Homo sapiens: one gene and its partners. The protein of the gene in region 1 purifies or fractionates together with the protein of each later gene. This does not show direct contact. Each region holds a gene or a part of one and is shown in the gene's direction. Other genes may lie near its edges.

The links.
Region 2: the proteins of TMEM31 (region 1) and VPS13D purify together in Homo sapiens (co-immunoprecipitation; 2 studies listed by BioGRID and IntAct, with this or other methods). This does not show direct contact.
Region 3: the proteins of TMEM31 (region 1) and VPS13C purify together in Homo sapiens (co-immunoprecipitation; 2 studies listed by BioGRID and IntAct, with this or other methods). This does not show direct contact.

The regions. Positions count from the first base shown.
Region 1 is NC_000023.11:103,705,737-103,714,045, forward strand, and holds TMEM31 (transmembrane protein 31), read left to right. Parts: upstream 1-5,172; 5' UTR 5,173-5,340; intron 5,341-6,499; 5' UTR 6,500-6,522; coding exon 6,523-6,624; intron 6,625-7,783; exon of another isoform or gene 7,784-7,857; coding exon 7,858-8,262; 3' UTR 8,263-8,296; downstream 8,297-8,309.
Region 2 is NC_000001.11:12,225,248-12,233,278, forward strand, and holds the start of VPS13D (intermembrane lipid transfer protein VPS13D), read left to right. Parts: upstream 1-4,782; 5' UTR 4,783-4,873; intron 4,874-8,031. UniProt on the Homo sapiens protein: Mediates the transfer of lipids between membranes at organelle contact sites. Functions in promoting mitochondrial clearance by mitochondrial autophagy (mitophagy), also possibly by positively regulating mitochondrial fission.
Region 3 is NC_000015.10:61,851,266-61,854,447, reverse strand, and holds the end of VPS13C (intermembrane lipid transfer protein VPS13C), read left to right. Parts: 3' UTR 1-2,059; downstream 2,060-3,182. UniProt on the Homo sapiens protein: Mediates the transfer of lipids between membranes at organelle contact sites. Necessary for proper mitochondrial function and maintenance of mitochondrial transmembrane potential.

The DNA.
Region 1 (8,309 bases):
TTTCAGTTACTCACAGTTGGTCACTTCAAAGGTCTCAGTGTGCCAGGCACATGCTTCCCCATGTCCCAGTGGTATGTCAGGCCTGAAGTGGGCTCTTCCACACCAACTCTCTCTATTCTGACGTTTCTGGTAGCTTCAACTGACTGCTACACCTACTCACTGCTTCTCCTTGTGGAGCAAGAAGGGTGAAGAAACAACTCTGAATTATGGCTCTTTAACTTCTACAACTTCTACCCTGATGTTGGTCAAATCAATGTTGATCTAGTATAGGGGTCTTCTACGTGCCTAGTTCCTCCCCAGCAAACCTGAAGCCCATTCTATCCTTAACAAGGTTGCAGCGGCACCTTTATTTGCACACCAAAAGGAGGTGAAAGACCAGGTTGGAAATGAAGGGCCCTGGAAAATAGACTTTGGTGAGAAAGAAGAAACAAATGAAAGCCCAGCCAACAAAAGACACTCTGAGAATAGTTTCTCTATTCTACTCCTCCTGGGTTCCACTACCTTGGATCTCACTTTTCTCAAAAGTTTTCTAGCATCATAAAGTAAGTTTCTTAAAGAACAAGTATTTTTCTTTTTTTACACTCCCCAGCTGTCCAACAGATCCTGCCATCATGCTAGTTAATTAGGGAACGGAACGAATATTTCTGAGACCAGAATGTTCAGGTGGATCTGGAAGGTTAGTCTTTTTGAGAACCCAAAGTCTCTGCCCCAATTCTGACAGTAATTTCTGAACCAGCTACCCTGGTCAGCTCAGAACGCTCTCCTCAAAACTAAGAGACAGACAAGAGGAGTATCTCAGTGAACAGGAAAGAGCAGACAAGCGCAATAGGAAAAGGGATGAAGACAAAGTGTGGGGCTTCCCAAGAGACTTGAACACCTCTCTGTTGGGCCATATAGTCGCTAGCCCAGTGCAGCCTATGACTGTTCCAACCCTCTCGAGAGGTGGGGAACTTGCGGCTTTGCCTTCCTCTCACTTCAAGGAAACCTGACTAGGCCCCACAGGGCAGCACTTGTGGATAGGAGAAACTCACCATTTGAATCTGCAGCAGGAGGGACAGAGGACAGAGTAATGGCCAGGCTCTGGGTGGGAGGTGGCAGGGGGAGAAGTGGTGCAGATTAAGATGACAAATGCCAGAATCTAGCAGCAGTGTTCTGAATACTCTCCACTGGAGTATTGGAAAACAGGGAGGCTCCAGCAAGGGCAGAAGGTCATCCTGGCCCCAGGAATGTGGCCAAACCTTAGTCTCATGAGAAATGGGAAAGTATGGAGAAAATATGGACTAGGGTAGATAAGCCATCTTTATAAGTACAGCCACCATTGGCACCATGCAATATAGGCCCACATAGCTTTGGGACTGGTAGTTGAAGTTCTGAGTGGGAGATCAGGAAGGAACTGTCCAAACCCCTAATGGAGTCTAACTGAGGGAGAAAGCCCACCCAGGAGGAAGCAGGAGGCCAGCAGCAGGACTCTATAGCTCCCACCCTATTCACAGAGCCTGGTGGATATCTTCTGACCATAGCACTTTATAGACAACCCAGTAGAAGATATTGAAGATGAGGAAAGTGAAAGGGAAGACAGCCCGGGAGATGGTGTCAATTCTCTTGGCTCAGTCCACGTAGAGTTTCCGCGTGGTTTCTCCTTCCCTTAGAAGAGGGGCTGGAGGTTGGGGACTATAAATGCCAGAACCTTCCATTGGACCTCCATCTCTTGCCTGCAGGCAGTGGCCCAAGCCATAGCCACGGAAATAGAAACGACTTTCTTGGATGATATCTTCCTCCTGGAATTACAAGGAAGAAACGGCAGAATTTGAGGTCAAAGCTCAAAGGCAGAGGGATAGAGAACAGACCACCCATCAATATCTCATAGGGAATGTTATGCAGACAAGGTGCCTTGGGTACACAGGCCCATTGCATGCTTTTTATGGTCACAACACTACTCATGAGATAGATGTATGCTAAGCAGCTCTACGTGCTATATATAGTGTATGTCATGATTCCATGGCAGATAGGCTCTAAGCTACCCATGTAAAATGCAAAACATCATTTAGAGTTATCTAAAATCCAGTGAAGTGCCGGCCACTGTGAGAGGACATCTCAATGTCAAGTTATCTCTGACTGGTAATAAACAAAACAACAAAACTATTAGATAGTGAAGTTGAGATATTCAGTCTTAGTAAACTTGACTTTAATGACTTTCAAAAGCTTCAGAATTCATTCCCCTTTTGAATCGTATCTTTTAAAATTTATCTCAACTTAAAACTGAAAATTCCAAAAGTTTTAAATAACCCAATGAGTTATCCAAATTAGGATAAACACATGCCCAGTGAGGGGTAAATTTTATATAAGCACTAAGTAATGCGGCAGACTGCCAAAAGTCCATTTTCCAATAGTTAGCTGACAACCTTTAGTAGCTAAACGCAGCTAGGAGCCAGGAAGTAGGGACAGAAAGATAAAGTTGAGAGAGAAAGAGAGCAAGAGAGAGCGAGAGAGAGAGAGAGAGAGAGAGAGAGAGAACCAAAACCTCTGAGTGTCAATAGAGAGAGCTTTACTTATATGAGGCCCTCAGGCCCCCATTCACAGCCTATTTAGTCTTATTTTATATGCAACCCTAACAAGCCTAATTTTATTTACTTCTAAAGGACAGGGTTGAGAAATGCTTCCTTCAAAGATGGTGGTAATTTCTTAAAGTATTCATGGTTTTAGAGTCAAAGTTTCAGGTATCTAAGAAATCACCTGAAGTGCAATGGCCTCTTGGAGGACGATGCAAACTGTCATCTCGGTTTGTCCAGAACGGAAGGTGTTCCTAAGACTTGGGTCTTTCAGGGCTGAAACTGGGGAAGTGCAAGGCAAATCAGGAAGAGCTGGTCATCCTGTGGCTACCTGAGGTATTTATTATAAGTTATAAGAAAAAAATATGTGTATATTGTATAGGTATGACATAGATATATACAAAATGTGGATAAAGTAGATTTTAAACACTCTGTCTCTCTCAGTTAGAGGGACACCACAGGGTCTTTATCGTGGGACCTCTGCAGCTATGGCAACACACTGAAAAGTGGCTTTGCCAGGCACGGTGGCTCACACCTGTAATCCCAACACTTTGAGAGGCCGAAGCTGGCGGATCACGAAGTCAGGAGTTCGAGACCAGCCTGACCAATATGGTGAAACCTCTTCTCTACTAAAAATACAAAAATTAGTCAGGCGTGGTGGCGGGCACCTGTAATCCCAGCTACTCAGTAGGCTGAGGCAGGAGAATCGCTTGAACCCACGAGGCGGAGGTTGCAGTGAGCAGAGATTGCGCTATTGCACTCTAGCCTGGGTGACAGAGCGAGACTCCATCTCAAAAAAAAAAAAAGAAAAAGAAAAAAAAAAAGAAAAGTGGCTTTGTGTATGAGATGTTGGTGTTGTAGGTCCTAGTAACCCTTGATAATGACATGACTAGAAACTGACCTGTCATCATAAAGACAGGCCTTGGTTCACCTCACATGTACTCTGTAATTCATTTTTACACTATTCTGACAAAGGAGGTTGTGCTGGACCCATTTTCGAGGTGAAGAACCAGAGGCAAACAAAATATTTTGCAATAATTTTAAAATGAGGGGAGTAAGTAAAATGGTTTTCTCCTTTGATTTCCAGTTCAGGGTCCCTCAGATGACCCTGTTGCCCAGTACTCACCCTGATCCCCTGAGCCCTACCCTGGCTAGAGGATGTAAGCAAAGGATGTTGGCAAAAAAGCTCTGAGGGGGAAAGTTGGATCCAACTGCTATTTCTGTTTCTATAGATCTAATTATTTTCCCTTTTCTCCAATCATAATAAATCTAAAGGGAGTTATTTGGACACATTTCCCAGGCTGGAAAAAGCCATTTCACACAGGAGAGAAAATATGGCCAACAGAGTAAGCTGGTCTTGGCTTTTTGTGACTTTAACATACTGCACCTGTTGTAGCTGGAGGAGCAAAGATGAATGGCTTGAAATCCAGGGGTGGGGCATCCTGCATTTGGGTATTCTCTATTTAGGCCAAATTCTGAGGGGTGTTTGTGTGTGGGGTGTGTGTGTGTGTGTGTGTGTGCTGGAAAGGAACATTGGAGCCTTAAATACCACTTTGTGGCTTACATGCCTATTAAAATAGAACTTTTTTTCCCCTGGCTATCTATAGGGGAGAAGGACTGAGAAGCTAGAGAGGGAAGATATCTCAAAACCACGCTAAGGAGGGAATGCACAGTGTAGGAGGTAAAGTGTGGAGATGGGAAAGAGTGATTTGTATTGAAGTGAGAGGGGCTAGAAAAAAAGGGATTAGAGAATGGGGAATGAAGAGGGTGCTGGAGGATGAAGAGAGGTGGGCAGGGTTCTGGGACCAAGCCCTTGAGAGGACTGGGCAGTATTTTGAAATTTCTTCCAGTTATCAAGTTATTCTATTGATCATGGCAAAGCTTTTGCTCTGTCCAGTTTGAAAGACAGTCCTCTCCAATCAGCCTGTAAAAGTTGGTGAGCTGGGTTACATGACTGCTGTGTCCAGAGCCTGGTGCTAAGGCCTGCTGAGGAGATGAAAAAGAGCTTCCCTTTCCTGGGGAAGCTTATGGACTAGCCGGGAAGACAGTGTAGGATTGCATGGGTAAAAAGTAAACCACTTTAGGCAGTGACATGAAAGGGGGCCACCATGCTATGGAGTTGTTGGTTGAGGAGAGAGTTGAGAAGAAAAGATGTGAATGGCTGGCTGGTTCCTAGAACACTCCTAACTGACTCTTGGCTAAGGGTTCCCTGGAGATCACATGGATTTTCTCCCTGCCCTCTCAGACTGAAGAATTCTTTTTCCCTAGCTGGAGCAGTAGGGCCCGGACAGAGGTTCTAGAAATGGATGAACTCTCCAACAATTTTTTCAGCCTGCTTGGTGCCTCCAAAATACCTGCTACAGGTCCTGGGATAACAGTGACTTTAGAAGACTCAAAAAAGGACATGACGAATGGCACGGGTTTGATTTTCAGTTTTATTCACGTTAATAATAATAATAATTCACGTTAAAAAAAGCCTCAGCCCACTTTTAGGCAGGCCCCAGAGTCCTAAGCAAGGCCCAGGCTGCTGTTGTAACTTTGTAATAATTGAGCACTGGTCATGACAGACTCCATTATGAGCTCAGGATCAGCCTATATATATGAGCAGGAGGGGACAGGCTGCAGGCAGTTGCGGGTTGCAGGAGTTCAGGAAAGGAGGTGGGACTAGAGTCAACCTGGAATAGCTCTACAGTAACAATGGCAGCCTTTTTGTTGCTGGGACATCCATACAGGCAACTTAGCTGGTGAAAGGACTCTGGATTGGTTGGCAGTCTGCTTTTTTTTTTCCAAGGTAGGCATTGAGAAGGCACCAAGATCAAAACTCCTATAAAGATAAGATCTTGGTACCTGCAGGCAGATTTGTTCGACACAGCTAAAGAGGGGGTGGGGACAGTTAGCTTAGAAAATGGAGTGTCCTGGCCGGGCGCGGGGGCTCACGCCTGTAATCTCAGCACTTTGCGAGGCCGAGGCGGGCGGATCACGAGGTCAGGATATCGAGACCATCCTGGCTAACACGGTGAAACCCTGTCTCTACTAAAAATACAGAAAATTAGCCGGGCGTGGTGGCGGGCGCCTGTAGTCCCAGCTACTCAGGAGGCTGACGCAGGAGAATGGCGTGAACCCGGGAGGCGGAGCTTGCAGTGAGCCCAGATCACGCCACTGCACTACAGCCTGGGCGACAGAGCGAGACTCCGTCTCAAAAAAAAAAAAAAAAAGAAAAAAGAAAATGGAGTGTCCTTTTTTCTTGCCCTTCTGCTAGGTGTATACACATATTTTTCTAACCCTTGGTATGGGTTAGGAAATGCTTTTAGGTTTCTTGAAGAATGAGTCCTACTCGAGGACATGTAGTTGTGGATTAGTCCACTAGAGGGCGTACTGCCCAGGGACCAACTAAAGGACTAAAGGGTAGGGACTGATAAATTCAAACCACTAGATGAGACAGGAGCCCTGCCCTCAGCAGAAAGGAACCTTAGCAAGGGACATGAAACCAAGGAGGTAGTTTGTGAGATATTTTTAGTGCGGACATACGGTAGGGGTGCCCCTGGAGCAGCTGAGGTGGGAGGTGGTGTGTTGAGGAGAGAACATTCCTTGTGCTAGTGTGGCCCAGACAAGCTAGAGTCAGGATTTTAAGAGTGGGTTCACAGCATTGTTTCCCATCCCCCAGAGGTCATTATGCTCTTGCCTCTCTGGCTTTAGAGCCTCCAGATTAGACAGAAAACATGGAGTCAGAGCTGAAGACAGACCAGAACTCTGTGTCTCTAATGGTTAAGCAACCAGTATGTAGCTCAGTTAAGCCTTTCAGCTTTGCTCATAATTGGACACTTGCTTCTGTGAGGCTGGCCCAGGCACCTCTGTTGTCATGACAACTTACCTAGCACCTATTGTCTGGGCAATTGGGGGTAAACTGCCTCTGTTGTCATGACGACAAGATTTCTTTTATATTTCCCCAGGTGATCACTTTACTGTAGAAGAAATGAGGTTAACAGAAAAGAGTGAGGGAGAACAACAACTCAAGCCCAACAACTCTAATGCACCCAATGAAGATCAAGAAGAAGAAATCCAACAGTCAGAACAGGCAAGTGGTGGTTTCTCAATTCCAACTTAGTTATGGGGGTCCTCTTATAATGCTCCCCTAGAAAGACACCAATGCCTGATTGTTGAATTCTTAACCACCAATTAGTGTATGACAACCTGGGCTACCTTCCTCCCGGTTGTGGGGGAGCAATTACTACTCAAAGCAATCTCTTTTTATTTATTTATTTATTTACTTATTTTTTGAGATGGAGTCTCACTCTGTTGCCCAGGCTGGAGTGCAGTGGTGTGATCTCAGCTCACTGCCAGCTTCAAGTGATTCTCCTGCCTCAGCCTCCTGAGTAGCTGGGATTACAGGTGCCCACCACCACACCGGCTAATTTTTGTATTTTTAGTAGAGACAGGGTTTCACCATGTTGGTCAGGCTGGTCTCGAACTCCTAACCTTGTGATCCACCCGCCTTGGCCTCCCAAAGTGCTGGGATTACAGGCGTGAGCCCCCGTGCCTGGCAAAGCAATCTCTTATTAGCTAACTTGGTAAGGTTCTACTACTAGCTAACATATCTTCAGTGCTTATTCTATGTCAAGCAGTGTGCCCATGCCCTTAATCAATCTACTATACTGACTTACAGAATCAAAGAGATTAAAGTAATCAAAGAGATTAAAATCAAAGAGATTAAAGTAATCAAAGAGATTAAAGTAATCAAAGAGATTAAAGTACTTAGCTTAACAGTGACCAGCTTAGTACTAGAATCCAGGTTTCTTTCTTTCTTTCTTTCTTTTTTTTTTTTGAGAAGGAGTTTTGCTCTTGTTGACCAGGCTGGAGTGCAATGGCTCAATCTCGGCTCACCGCAAACTCCGCCTCCTGGGTTCAAGCGATTCTCCTGCCTCAGCCTCACAAGTAGCTGGGATTACAGGCATGCGCTACCACGCCCGGCTAATTTTGTATTTTTAGTAGAGACAGGGCTTCTCCATGTTGATCAGGCAGGTCTCGAACTCCCGACCACAGGTGATCCGCCCACCTCGGCCTCCCAAAGTGCTGGGATTACAGGCGTGAGCCACTGCGCCCTTATGAATCCAGGGTTTCTGATTGCCTATCTAGTCCTTGCAGCCCTGGGGTGGGTCTTGGTTTGTGGGGAGGCGGAGTAGGGAGGAAGGAGTCCAAAGGAGAAAGGCAGTGGGCCGCTCCCTAGTTGTACTCACCAAGCGTTGGCGCCTCTGCCTTCTTCGAAGTCGTATGAATTCTTTATGCTGACGAGAAACAAAATTTATGGCAGCATACTCCAGCAAGGCAGCGAACACAAAGAGCAGACACACAGCCATCCAGATGTCGATTGCCTTCACGTAGGACACCTACAACATCCAGCGACAGAACGATCAACCTTCTTGAAGTCCTTCCGTGGCCTACTGAGTGGATTTTCAACCCCTATCGATTGCCTGCTCTTTTTGAGCTTTATCCTGAATTTCTTCTGGTGTTTAAAGAAGCCTTCCATGACATATCCCATTGTCTGAAAGCCCAGATGGAAAAGATCGGACTGCCCATCATACTCCACCTCTTCGCACTCTCCACCCTCTACTTCTACAAGTTTTTCCTTCCTACAATTCTTTCCCTTTCTTTCTTTATTCTTCTTGTACTTCTGCTTCTGCTTTTTATTATTGTCTTCATTCTGATCTTCTTCTGATTCTTTTGTTTCAATAAACAGCAATGAGCATGAACACTGCATTTGTC
Region 2 (8,031 bases), on another chromosome or scaffold:
ACTTTCATTTACAATTTATTATAAAGGATGCAACTAGTGGAAAAATGCACAGGCCAAGGTGTTAGAGATGGGGTGGGGCTTGGAAACACTGAACCTTTAGGGTTTTTTTGTTTTTTTTTGAGATGGAGTCTCTCTGTTGCCCAGGCGGGAGTGCAGTGGCCTGATCTCAGCTCACTGCAAGCTCTGCCTCCCAGGTTCACACCATTCTCCTGCCTCAGCCTCCCAAGTAGCTGGGACTACAGGCGCCCGCTACCATGCTCGGCTAAATTTTTTGTATTTTTAGTAGAGACAGGGTTTCACCATGTTGGCCAGGATGGTCTTGATCTCCTGACCTTGTGATGCACCTGTCTCGGCCTCCCAAAGTGCTGGGATTACAGGCGTGAGCCACTGTGCCCGACCACCTTTAGGGTTTTTACGTGGGCATGATTGACTGAATAATTGGCCATTGGTGATTGAACTCAATCTCCAATCCTCCCCGCAGGTCGGAGGCGGTCAAAGAGTGTGTGTTTTTGCGTGAGATAGGCCCACCCTCTCTCTAATAACATGGTTGCTCCCTCTGGAAACCAGCCCCATTCTGAAGCTGTCTAGGGACTTTCAGCCACCAGTCGTCTCAGGAACCTACGAAAAGACACTCTTATCTCTCTGGAGATCCTGGTGGTCCCAGGAACTCTTGGGTTGGGAACTTGGGGATGTTGACCAAAGAGTATAAAGTTTGGGCCAGGTATGGTGGTCACGCCTGTCATCCCAGCACTTTGGGAGGCCGAGGTGGGTGGATTACTTGAGGCTAGGAGTTTGAGACCAGCCTGGCCAACATGATGAAACACCGTCTCTACTAAAAGTACAAAAATTTGCCAGGCGTGGTGGTACATATCTGTAATCTCAACTACTGGGGAGGCTGAGGCAGGATAATCACTTGAACCTGGGAGGCAGAGGTTGCAGTGAGCTGAGATCGCGCCACTGCACTCCAGCCTGGGCAACTGGGTGACAGAGAGAGACTCCGTCTCAAAAAAAAAAAAAAGAAACAAAACAAAGAGTACGAAGTTTCAGTTAAACAAGAGAAAGAAGCTATAGTGATCTATTGCTCAGAATGGTGACTATAAGAAATAATACATTGCATATTTCAGAATTGCTAAAAGAGTAGGTTTTAAATGCTTTCATCTGGCCGGGCGCGGTGGCTCACGCCTGTAATCCCAGCACTTTGGGAGGCTGAGGCGGGCGGATCACGAGGTCAGGAGATCGAGACCATCCTGGCTAACACGGTGAAACCCCGTCTCTACTAAAAATACAAAAAAAATTAGCCGGGCATGGTAGCGGGCGCCTGTAGTCCCAGCTACCCGGGAGGCTGAGGCAGGAGAATGGCGTGAACCCGGGAGGCGGAGCTTGCAGTGAGCCAAGACAGCGCCACTGCAGTCCAGCCTGGGCGAAAGAGCGAGACTCCGTCTCAAAAAAAAAAAAAAAGTTTTCATCCAAAAAAGTATGTTAGCTGATGGATTTGTTCATTAGTGTGAATTAATCATTCCACATTGTAAATAGATATCAAAACAGTGCACTGTAGCCCATAAATATATACAATTATTTGTCAATTAAATTTTTGAAAAAAGCTGTGAGCAGTGTCTCCTGCCTGTAATCCCAGCACTTCGGGAGGCCAAGGTGGGAGGAATGCTTGAGCTCAGGGGTTCAAGACCAGCCTGGACAACATGGCAAAACCCCATCTCTACTAAAAATACAAAAATTAGCCGGGCGTGGTGGTGCACGTCGGGAATCCCAGCTACTCGGGAGGCTGAGGCATGAGAATCACTTGAACCTGGGAGGCAGAGGCTGCAGTGAGCCGAGATTGTGCCACTGCACTCCAGCCTGGGCGACAGAGTAAGATTGTCTCAAACAAACAAACAAACAAACAAACAAAACCCCCCAAATCAGCTGGGTGTGGTAGTGCATCTGTAGCCTGTAGTTCCTCTGACAGTTTTGTCTTTTCTGGAATTTCACAGAAATGAAATCACTACGGTATGTGGTCTTTTTCCACATAGCTAATACTTTTGAGGTTCCTCCAGATCGTGCCTGCGTCAGCCCTACTCACCTTTTTGTTGGTGAGTAGTGCTCCATTGTATGACTATGTTGCAATTTGTTTGTCCACTCTCCTGTTGATGGACATTTTGATTGTTTTTTTTTGTTTCTGGCTTTTATGAATAAAGCTGCTATGAGTGTTCATGTATAAGTCTTGGTGTGGGCATATGTTTTAATTTCTCTTGGCTAATATCTAGCAGTGGGATTGCTGTATGGTAAATGTATATTTAAACATTTATAGGAAACTGGGGGCACGAAGACTTTCAGTAATACTGGTCGAATCAATGGTGCCCAGGAATTTGCATTTTTGAGACAGGGTCTCTGTTGCGCAGGTTGGAGTGCACAGGCATGATCATTGCTCACTGTAACCTTGAACTCATGGGCTCAAGCAATCCTCCTCCCAGTAGTTGGGAGTACAGGCATGTGCCACCGTGCCCAGCTAATTTTTTCATTTATAATTTTTTGTAGAGATTGGGGTCTCCTTATGTTGCACAGGCTGGTCTTGAATTCCTGGCCTCAAAAAATCCCCCCCACTGCCTTGGCCTCCCAAAGTGCTAGGATTACTGGTGTGAGCCACGGTGCCAGGCCATGTGCAGTATTTTTTTGGATTTTTTTTGAGATGGAGTCTTGCTCTGTTGCCGAGGCTGGAGTGCAATGGCGAGATCTCGGCTCACTGCAACCTCTGCCTCCTGGGTTCAAGCAATTCTCCTGCCTTAGCCAGGAGAGTAGCTGGGATTACAGGCACCTGTGACCATGCCCGGCTAATTTTTGTATTTTTAGTAGAGATGGGGTTTTGCCAAGTTGGTCAGGCTGGTCCTGAACTCCTGACCTCAGGTGATCCACCCACATCTGCCTCCCAAAGTGCTGAGATTACAGGCATGAGCCACCGCGCCTGGCCTGGGCCATGTGCATTTCTAACAAGCTTCCCAGGTACAGCCAATTGTCTGTGCTAGGTGATCTGGACTTCGAGGTCCTTCACCTCTGAAGGACTGCCTTCCTTCCTCCTTCTGTCTGTGGAGTTCCAGGTTTTACTCCCAAACCTCAGCCCCAGAGGAGACCCAGCATCCAGATTCTGAGAGGTTGATCCCACCATACAGGAACCCCAGTCTTGCTCAGGAGTGAGTCAGCCCAACATGCACCCTCATTAGCTTAGCATCATGAGGGTTGGTAATTATTATGGTAAATACATGATTGTAACCTTGCCGTTCTGCTTCCTGCATCTTCTAATTTATATGAGCCTGAGGTCTCCCTCTTGCCCTTCTTGTGATAATGCAAGGAGGAAGTGTTCAGCTGTTCATTCATACACACTCATTGAGTCTTTTCTGTGCTAGGCAATGTCTAGGTGTTGAAGAAACACTGTGAAAGGGATAAAATCTCTGTTTTCAAGGTACTGGGGAAAGAACAACATATGTATAAACAAACAAGATAATCTCAGGGAGTATTAGGTTCCATGAATAAAATACAACAGGGTAATGGATAATGGAACTTTATTTTTATTTTCATTTTTGAGAGGGAGTCTCACTCTGTCTGGAGTGCAGAGGGGTGATCTCGGCTGACTGCAACCTCCGCCTCCCGGGTTCAAGTGATTCTCCTGCCTCAGCTTCCCCAGTAGCTGGGACTACAGGTGTGCACTACCACGCCCGGCTAATTTTTGTAGTTTTAGTAGAGATGGGGTTTCACTATGTTGGCCAGGCTGGTCTCAAACTCCTGACTTCAGTGATCCGCCCGCCTCAGCCTCCTGAAGTGCTGGGATTACAGGCATGAGCCACTGTGCCCAGCTCATAATGGAACCGTAGATAGGCACAAGTCCTCTCTGAGTGGAATATTTGAAGCCAGAGGGAGTCAGCTATACGAATATCCAGAGCTATTCTGTAGCTCTGGATTGGCCACAAGAGGGTATTGAGCACTGGAATTCTGGCTAGTTTGTACTGAGATGCGCAGTAAATGTAAAATATACCCGAATTTCAAAAACTTACTATAAAAAAGTTAACATATTGTATTAGTAATTTTTTCTTTTGGCGACATGTTGAGATGATCATATTTTGAACATATTGGATTAAATATATTAAAATGAAGTTCATTTTCTTCTTTTTCGTTTAAAAAAAATGTACTAGCTAGTAAATGTGGATTGCCTATGTGGCTGGCATTGTGTTTCTATTGGTCTGAGGAGAAGGGTCCTAGGTAGAGACAACGGCAAAGGTACAGTTCCTGGGGCAGAAACTGAAGGATGCTGAGGCAGAGTCGGCCGGGGAAAAAGTGGCTGAAATGGGAAGGGACCAGATCCAGTGGGACCTTGGTGGCAGCTCTGTAAGGAGGTGGGTTTTAACTGAAGTACGGTGGGGACGCCGTTTTAAGCAGGGAAGGGCAGGGTCTGAATTAACAGGCCCCTGTGGCTGCGAAGTGGGGAACGGACTGTGGGTGAGTGGGCCAGACGGACGGCCAATCGCACCTTTCGCTTGGATGGAAGGCAGGGTGGTTGTAGGTGGGAAGAATCCTGGGTTCCCATGCTGTCTGAACCAGAGTCATTTGTGGCCCTGCCCTCCCCTGGGACTCAATTTCCCCACCTATAAAATAAGCCCCAGTGTCCGCGAACCCTGGAGGGGCCCGCACCACTGCAGGAGCGGCCGCCGGCGCCAGGGGGCGCCTCCTCGATAACTCGGCGCTCGGCTGGCCAGGCACCGGCGCGTCGGCCGCTCGATTGGTCGGGTCGGGGCCGGCCTGAGCGCCGCGGGCCTGCGCCATTGAGGAGCGGCGGGGAGGAAACGCCGCGCAGCGCCGGGCTGGGGCGGGCGGCCCGGGACACCGACAGGTAGGGGCCGAGCGGCTCCGTGCCGGGCGGGGCCAGGGTCGGGAACTGCAGGGCCGGCGCGGACCCGCGGGCCGCCGCTAGGGCTCCGCCTGGACATGGGGGCCCGGGCCCACCCTGGGGAGAGCGATGCTAGGAGCCTGGGGGCCCCGTCGTCCGGCCTCGGTCTGAGCCCCTCGGGGTAACCCTGGGCGTCTGCTCCCCCCGGGCCCCAAGCCCGCCACCTCCGGGGACCCCTGCGTCCGAGTCCCCGCGAGCTCCCCAAGCACAGGCTCGGGGCTGGCTGAACCTCTGGGAACCCCGACGTCCGTGTCCTGGGGAGCCCGAGCCCCCGCTGGACCCCGGCACACTTTCCGGGGTCCCAGCAGCCTGGCGCCCTGGAATTGGGGGGTGTCAGTCCGCGCCTGTCCGCCTGAGCCTTGGTCTCAATGCAGGACCCCAGTGTGCGAGCCCCCCACATTACGCCGAAGAGTGGGGTGTCAGTTCTCTAGAATGCCTTAGCCACCTCCCTTAATCAGCCACCCGAGGTCACACTCTCGCGTGGAGACATCAGGCCTAAAACCTCTCTTTACCTTTTGCCCCCCAGGGTCACGCCCTGGCCCAGCCACTCCTCCTAGGTGTGGGATGCCAGACATCAGGCCTAAAACCTCTCTTTACCTTTTACCCCCCAGGGTCACGCCCTGGCCCAGCCACTCCTCCTAGGTATGGGATCCCGGCGCCGTTCCCTCCAGGTTTTACTTGGGTGGTGGGGTCTCTGTCCCCTGGAGGGGGCTGAGGGTTCCGAGAGCTGGGGGCGGGAGGGTTGTGGGAGCGTCGCCTTCCGGGCAGTGCCGTTCCTGTGGGGCCACCGGTCGCACAGCCGTCCCCGCCCCGGTTTTGGAGCTCCCTGGCGCCGGCAGCGTTCAGCCCTGGCCGCCTCGGGGAGGGACGCCCAGGTCCGGTTGCCAGTCCTTCCTATTCCCGGTCTGGCCGCTCCTCAGGGGAGGGGCCTGGCTCAAGGTCATGCCCGGCTGTCTGCCCGCCCGTGGGCTCAGCACTGATCCCTACTGTCACCCGCCCCACTGGGTAGGGGAGCCCAGGTGGGGGTTAGTGCCAGTGCCAGGCAGCTGCCTAGAAGTCCTGATGGACCGGAGTGTAAACACTTTGGGACTCTGGCCAGTCTGGCGGCCCTTGCTGACACTGAATTCCTTCAGGGAATCCTTGAAGTGGCCTCAAGCACGGTCTAGATGCTTAGCAGAGCAAATAATGGGTGCTTTCTGGTTTGGGCCTCAATGTTACTGACCAGGTTGCCTCACAATGCTAATCACTCATGCTTTTAAAATCTGTGCTTTGCATTCTTTTCCGTTTAGGGCAAGTAGGGTAGGGCCTGAACTTGTTTACAAACTGACAGTTGTTTCCCTTGATTTGGAGATAATTGGTAATTGGCACTCAGAGTTGGCATTTAGGGCCGAAATTAGTGGCAATAACTACAAAAATAAAGAGTACTCTGACCTTGGCTTCTTGCTCAAATTTGTTTGGAGTCCCCATAGTAAGATTAGTCAGTTTCACATTTGGTTTTCACAAATTTACTCCTTTCAAGTTATAATAGTGGCCGGGCACGGTGGCTCACGCCTGTAATCCCAGCACTTTGGGAGGCCAAAGTGGGCAGATCGCTTAAGGTCAGGATTTCAGACCAGCCTGGCCAACATGATGAAACCCTGTCTCTACCAAAAATACAAAACTTAGCCGGGGATGGTGGCAGGTGCCTGTAATCCCAGCTACTCAGGAGGCAGAGGTAGGAGAATCGCTTGAACCCAGGAGATGGCGGTTGCAGTGAGCCGAGATCCGAGATCCCGTCACTGCACTCCAGCCTGGGCGAGGGAGCAACACTCTGTCTCCAGAAAAAAAAGTTACAATAGAGAAATGTTTCTTTTATTCAGACTGTTGAGCATTTTTTTTAAAAAATTGTTCTTATAACATCTTCTTTAAACAAATGTAGCTAATAATTAGTTTTATGTAACTCTACCCTTAAAAAATATCTTTATATTCCATTTGCAGAAAAAAAAATCTTTGGAAAGAAATTGGTCAAATATTTTACCAAATGCTGTTTTTTTCTTTTTGCTGTCACTGTTGACCAATAAAAGTTAATCTTCTCTGGAAGTACAAGATATTGTTGACAAACAAAAGCCAGTTTTTCCAGGAGATTGAATTCATTCTTGTGGAGGCCTTGTGCTTCAGGTAGTTGTTGGATGGCAGCCTCTCAGTTGGGATAGGTGTATCTTCTGGCACTAAGATGAATCACTAGAGGTGGGGCAGCGTGCTTGGAGAGGATCCTGAAAGTAGGCTGGCTCCAGTGGGATGCGTGCCATGGCAAGTCTGTAGTGCCTGGCAGGGTGGCTGATGACTGACATGGTGGATCAGAACAAGATTTGAGGCTCACAGTTTCCACTGGGATCTTCTAGTTGAGCAATCTCAGAACCCAGTTAAACTTTTGTGTCTCAGTTTCCCTCATGTTGACTTTTTGTAATACTAAAATTAGTCTTTTTTTTTTTTTTTTTTTTTTTTTGGTAATACTGGTAAACACCAGTTATTATAACAGGCAGTAGTACCTACAAAATCTAAATACCGTGGCTGGAGCCAGAGGATTTCTGGAGTTTGGGGTTTGTAATAATCGACTAAGATTGTTCATTGTATCAGCGTCATCTGGTGCCCAGGTACCAGTAATGCAGTTCCAGGACATTTAAGAACAGTGATAAAGCACTGTCGCCTCTCTCCCATGTATATTATTTTATAAGTGATCCTCATGAACAAATTTGAGACATTTAATTTGGGCGGCCTAAATGAGGATCATTAAAGAATGTGAATTCTCCCCCCACCCCCAACTTTATTCAGGTTTGTTTCATGAGTTTCTTTTTCTTTTTTTTTTTGAGATGGAGTCTCACTCTGTCACCCAGGCTGGAGTGCGGTGGTGTGATCTTGGCTCACTGCAACCTCTGCCTCCCGGGTTCAAGGGATTCTCCTGCCTCAGCCTCCCGAGTAGCTGGGATTACAGGTGCCTGCCACCATGCCTGGCTAAGTTTTGTATTTTTGGTAGAGACAGGGTTTCACCATGTTGGCCAGGCTGGGTTTGGACTCCTGACCTCAGGTGATCCACCTGCCTCGGCCTCCCAAAGTGCTGGGAC
Region 3 (3,182 bases), on another chromosome or scaffold:
TCAGGGGCTCCAACAGGGAGAAAAAACAATCACTGGTCTTGTCTATAAGTCACTCTGCTTTATCTTGCTAAAGACAATTTTTCAAGCAATCCTTTAGTTTTAGTTTTCTGGAATAGCTAGTATTGGGTTTTCTAGTTTTTTCACCTTTTAGTTTTTACTCTAATTTTGTAACCATGTATATGCTAGCAGTCCACTTCTACGCCACCACCCAAATGGGTCAGACCCTTGAAGAAACGTCACTTCAAACTCAGAATGAAATTTTCATTAATATTAAAATTGTGAAGCAAAGGTCAATAGGCTTATATTTAATTAAAGCCTTACTGAAGAATAAGAAATGAGCTTAGAATGACTAGTGTTCTTTGAAAGGTTTTTTTATTTTTGTTTTTTTGGGGTTTTTTTTTTTTTTGAGACCGAGTCTTGCTCTGTCGCCCAGGCTGGAATGCAGTGGTGCGATCTTGGCTCACTGCAATCTCTGCCTCTCGGGTTCAAGCTGTTCTACTGCCTCAGCCTCCTGAGTAGCTGGGATTACAGGTGTGTGCCACCACGCCTGGGTAATTTTTTTTTTTTTTGTATTTTTAGTAGAGATGAGTTTCACCATGTTGGTCAGTCTAGTCTCGAACTCCTGACCTTGTGATCCGCATGCCTCAGCCTCCCAAAGTGCTGGGATTACAGGCATGAGCCACCACGGCCCGCCAAAAGGCTTTAACCCATGAACAAATGTTGGATCCTGACATTTTGTTTAAGAGTGATTTGTTCAATAATTGAACTGAGTTAACATTCTTGGTAAACCAGGTAATTGAATGAAGAAAGGTCACTAAAGGGAGAAATGACATGTTTTCTATTTTCTTTTCATGAAAACACTGTTTTTCCCCCTAATAAAGCATATTTTACTTTGGTGCTTATTTTTCCTCCTTGCAGTCTAATAAAAAAATCTGGACAATCAAACCTTAAAATAGCTACACTCTGCCCTCTGTAATGTAGCATTCATAAAAATTTGGAAGTATTTACATCCTCTTTCAAGATGAGCTTATATGACACAATTATTATTTGCTGATACATGAAAATACTGCACTTTAAGTTTCTCAAGACTCTGAAATATGTAAAATTCAATATTTTTATATTCCCAGAAATTGTTTCTTACAGGTTGAAAGTCTTTTAAGGGCATCACAAATTAACATTTACTCCTAATGCACGCCTAGAATGTATTTTAAATACTTACTAAGAAGAATGAAAATTCTTTGGTTGTTTTATATATAAATAAGGCATATATAATGACACTGTGTTCTGTGAGGGAGCAGGCCCTGTGAGAATCAATTCAGGACAGTATTTTTTTTTGTCCTTTCTCCATCCTTGATCAGAGATAAACTATTAAAACTTTAAAAAATACTCAAAAATATGTAAGTTTTTTGGTTGAACCTTTAGATTTGCTCATAATGTTTAACATAACAACATTTATTTCAAATCACTGAATTCATGGAGATGTGGACACGCTTGGTTTGCTCTATTTTTGTTTATGTGTGATAGTGGTTCTGTCATCATCATTCATGTTTTTTAAGGCCTGGTCATAAAACTTTAAATTTTACTAGTGTTACTTAATGTATATTCTAAAAAGAGAATGCAGTAACTAATGCCCTAAATGTTTGATCTCTGTTTGTCATTACTTTTTCAAAATTATTTTTTTCTGTAAAGTATAATATATAAAACTTCTTGCTTAAATTGAATTTCTATATTAGTGGTTAATTGCAGTTTATTAAAGGGATCATTATCAGTAATTTCATAGCAACTGTTCTAGTGTTTTGTGTTTTTAAAACAGAATTAGGAATTTGAGATATCTGATTATATTTTTCATATGAATCACAGCTGTTGACAATGTCCCATATATTTAAGAAATTATATCATACTGATACTATTTGTAACATTTTGATTTGATTTAATCTCCAGGGACAGAAATAATTCATTGGTAAAGTGTAATAATGCGTTTTTTAAAAATGCTTTGAGAGGTAATTACTTGCATATGAGAGAAATAAAACATTTGGCACATTGTTTACAGGTGTGAAAACTTTGTGGGTTTGTGTTATTCAAGTAACATTTGCTTTACTTTTTGTCTTTCCCTTTTCCTCTTCCAATCCCAAAATAGTGAGAAGTTATATTGATAGTTATGGAGGACTTTACAAGATACTAGTCAGAAAAGCTTTTTCTCAGGGGTACTGAGCCCCTTTATCACACTAGAGATCTGTGGCAGAGACCTCCAATACTGGGGGATTACAGAGAATGCGGTTGACCTAGGGGCCCAGCTGCACTTTGAAATCCATTGCTGTATTTGCATTGAGCCCATGCCTTCCGTGGTTTCTCTCAGCGACTGGCTGAGTATGAAGTTATACTAAGACATACTTAGTCTGGAAATTCTAGGAGACACAGAACTCCTCTGACAGCCGACTTTGGCTTGAAGACTCTTCAGTGGCCTTGCAGAACCTTTCTTAGACTGCATGGCAGTCTGGGATGTTCTACCATACCGCTGTCTTTCTCTTCTCCTCCCTCTTCCACATGGGGCTCAGACTACCAGTTTGGAAGGCTCACCCAGTGCTGGATTATCTGGTAGGAAGAATAAGTTCATGCTGAGGGCTGTAGCAAAGCAGGGGCATTAAAAAAGGAAAAAAAAAAAAAAGGAAGAAGACTGTACCCAAGCTTCGTAAGAAAAATGCCATCCAGGGTGGACTTACTTCCATGTGTTTTATGATTTAGTATTGTTTTTATTTTGAATTATGCATGAAGGAGGACACTATCATCTTTTTGGTGCTTTGAGTTTCTAAGTATGTTGATCTGGTGCTGCCTGGATATCTGTTTTTAACGAAGTTCTGTGTGTGTTTCTAATGTACAGCCAGGACTAAAAATTAATGCTCTGGACTTAAAATGATCAAATTCTTAAAGGGCTCTACAGATCTCAATGTTAGTTAATATTAAGTTGCAATTATTGCCAGAGCTGGAAGAATCATCTTTTTATTGGGGAGAAAAACCAAAGATTCTTAGAGGATAGAAGATTGCTCATAACAGGGTCATTTGTCCTCTGGGGACAAGCCCTTGTGGTTGAGAATCACTGCCAGAATGACCATGAGTACTGATGAAAGTGGGTTCTGTGCCATGTGTGTCAGCTCTAAGAAGAAATCGAGACTCACTGGAGCGGA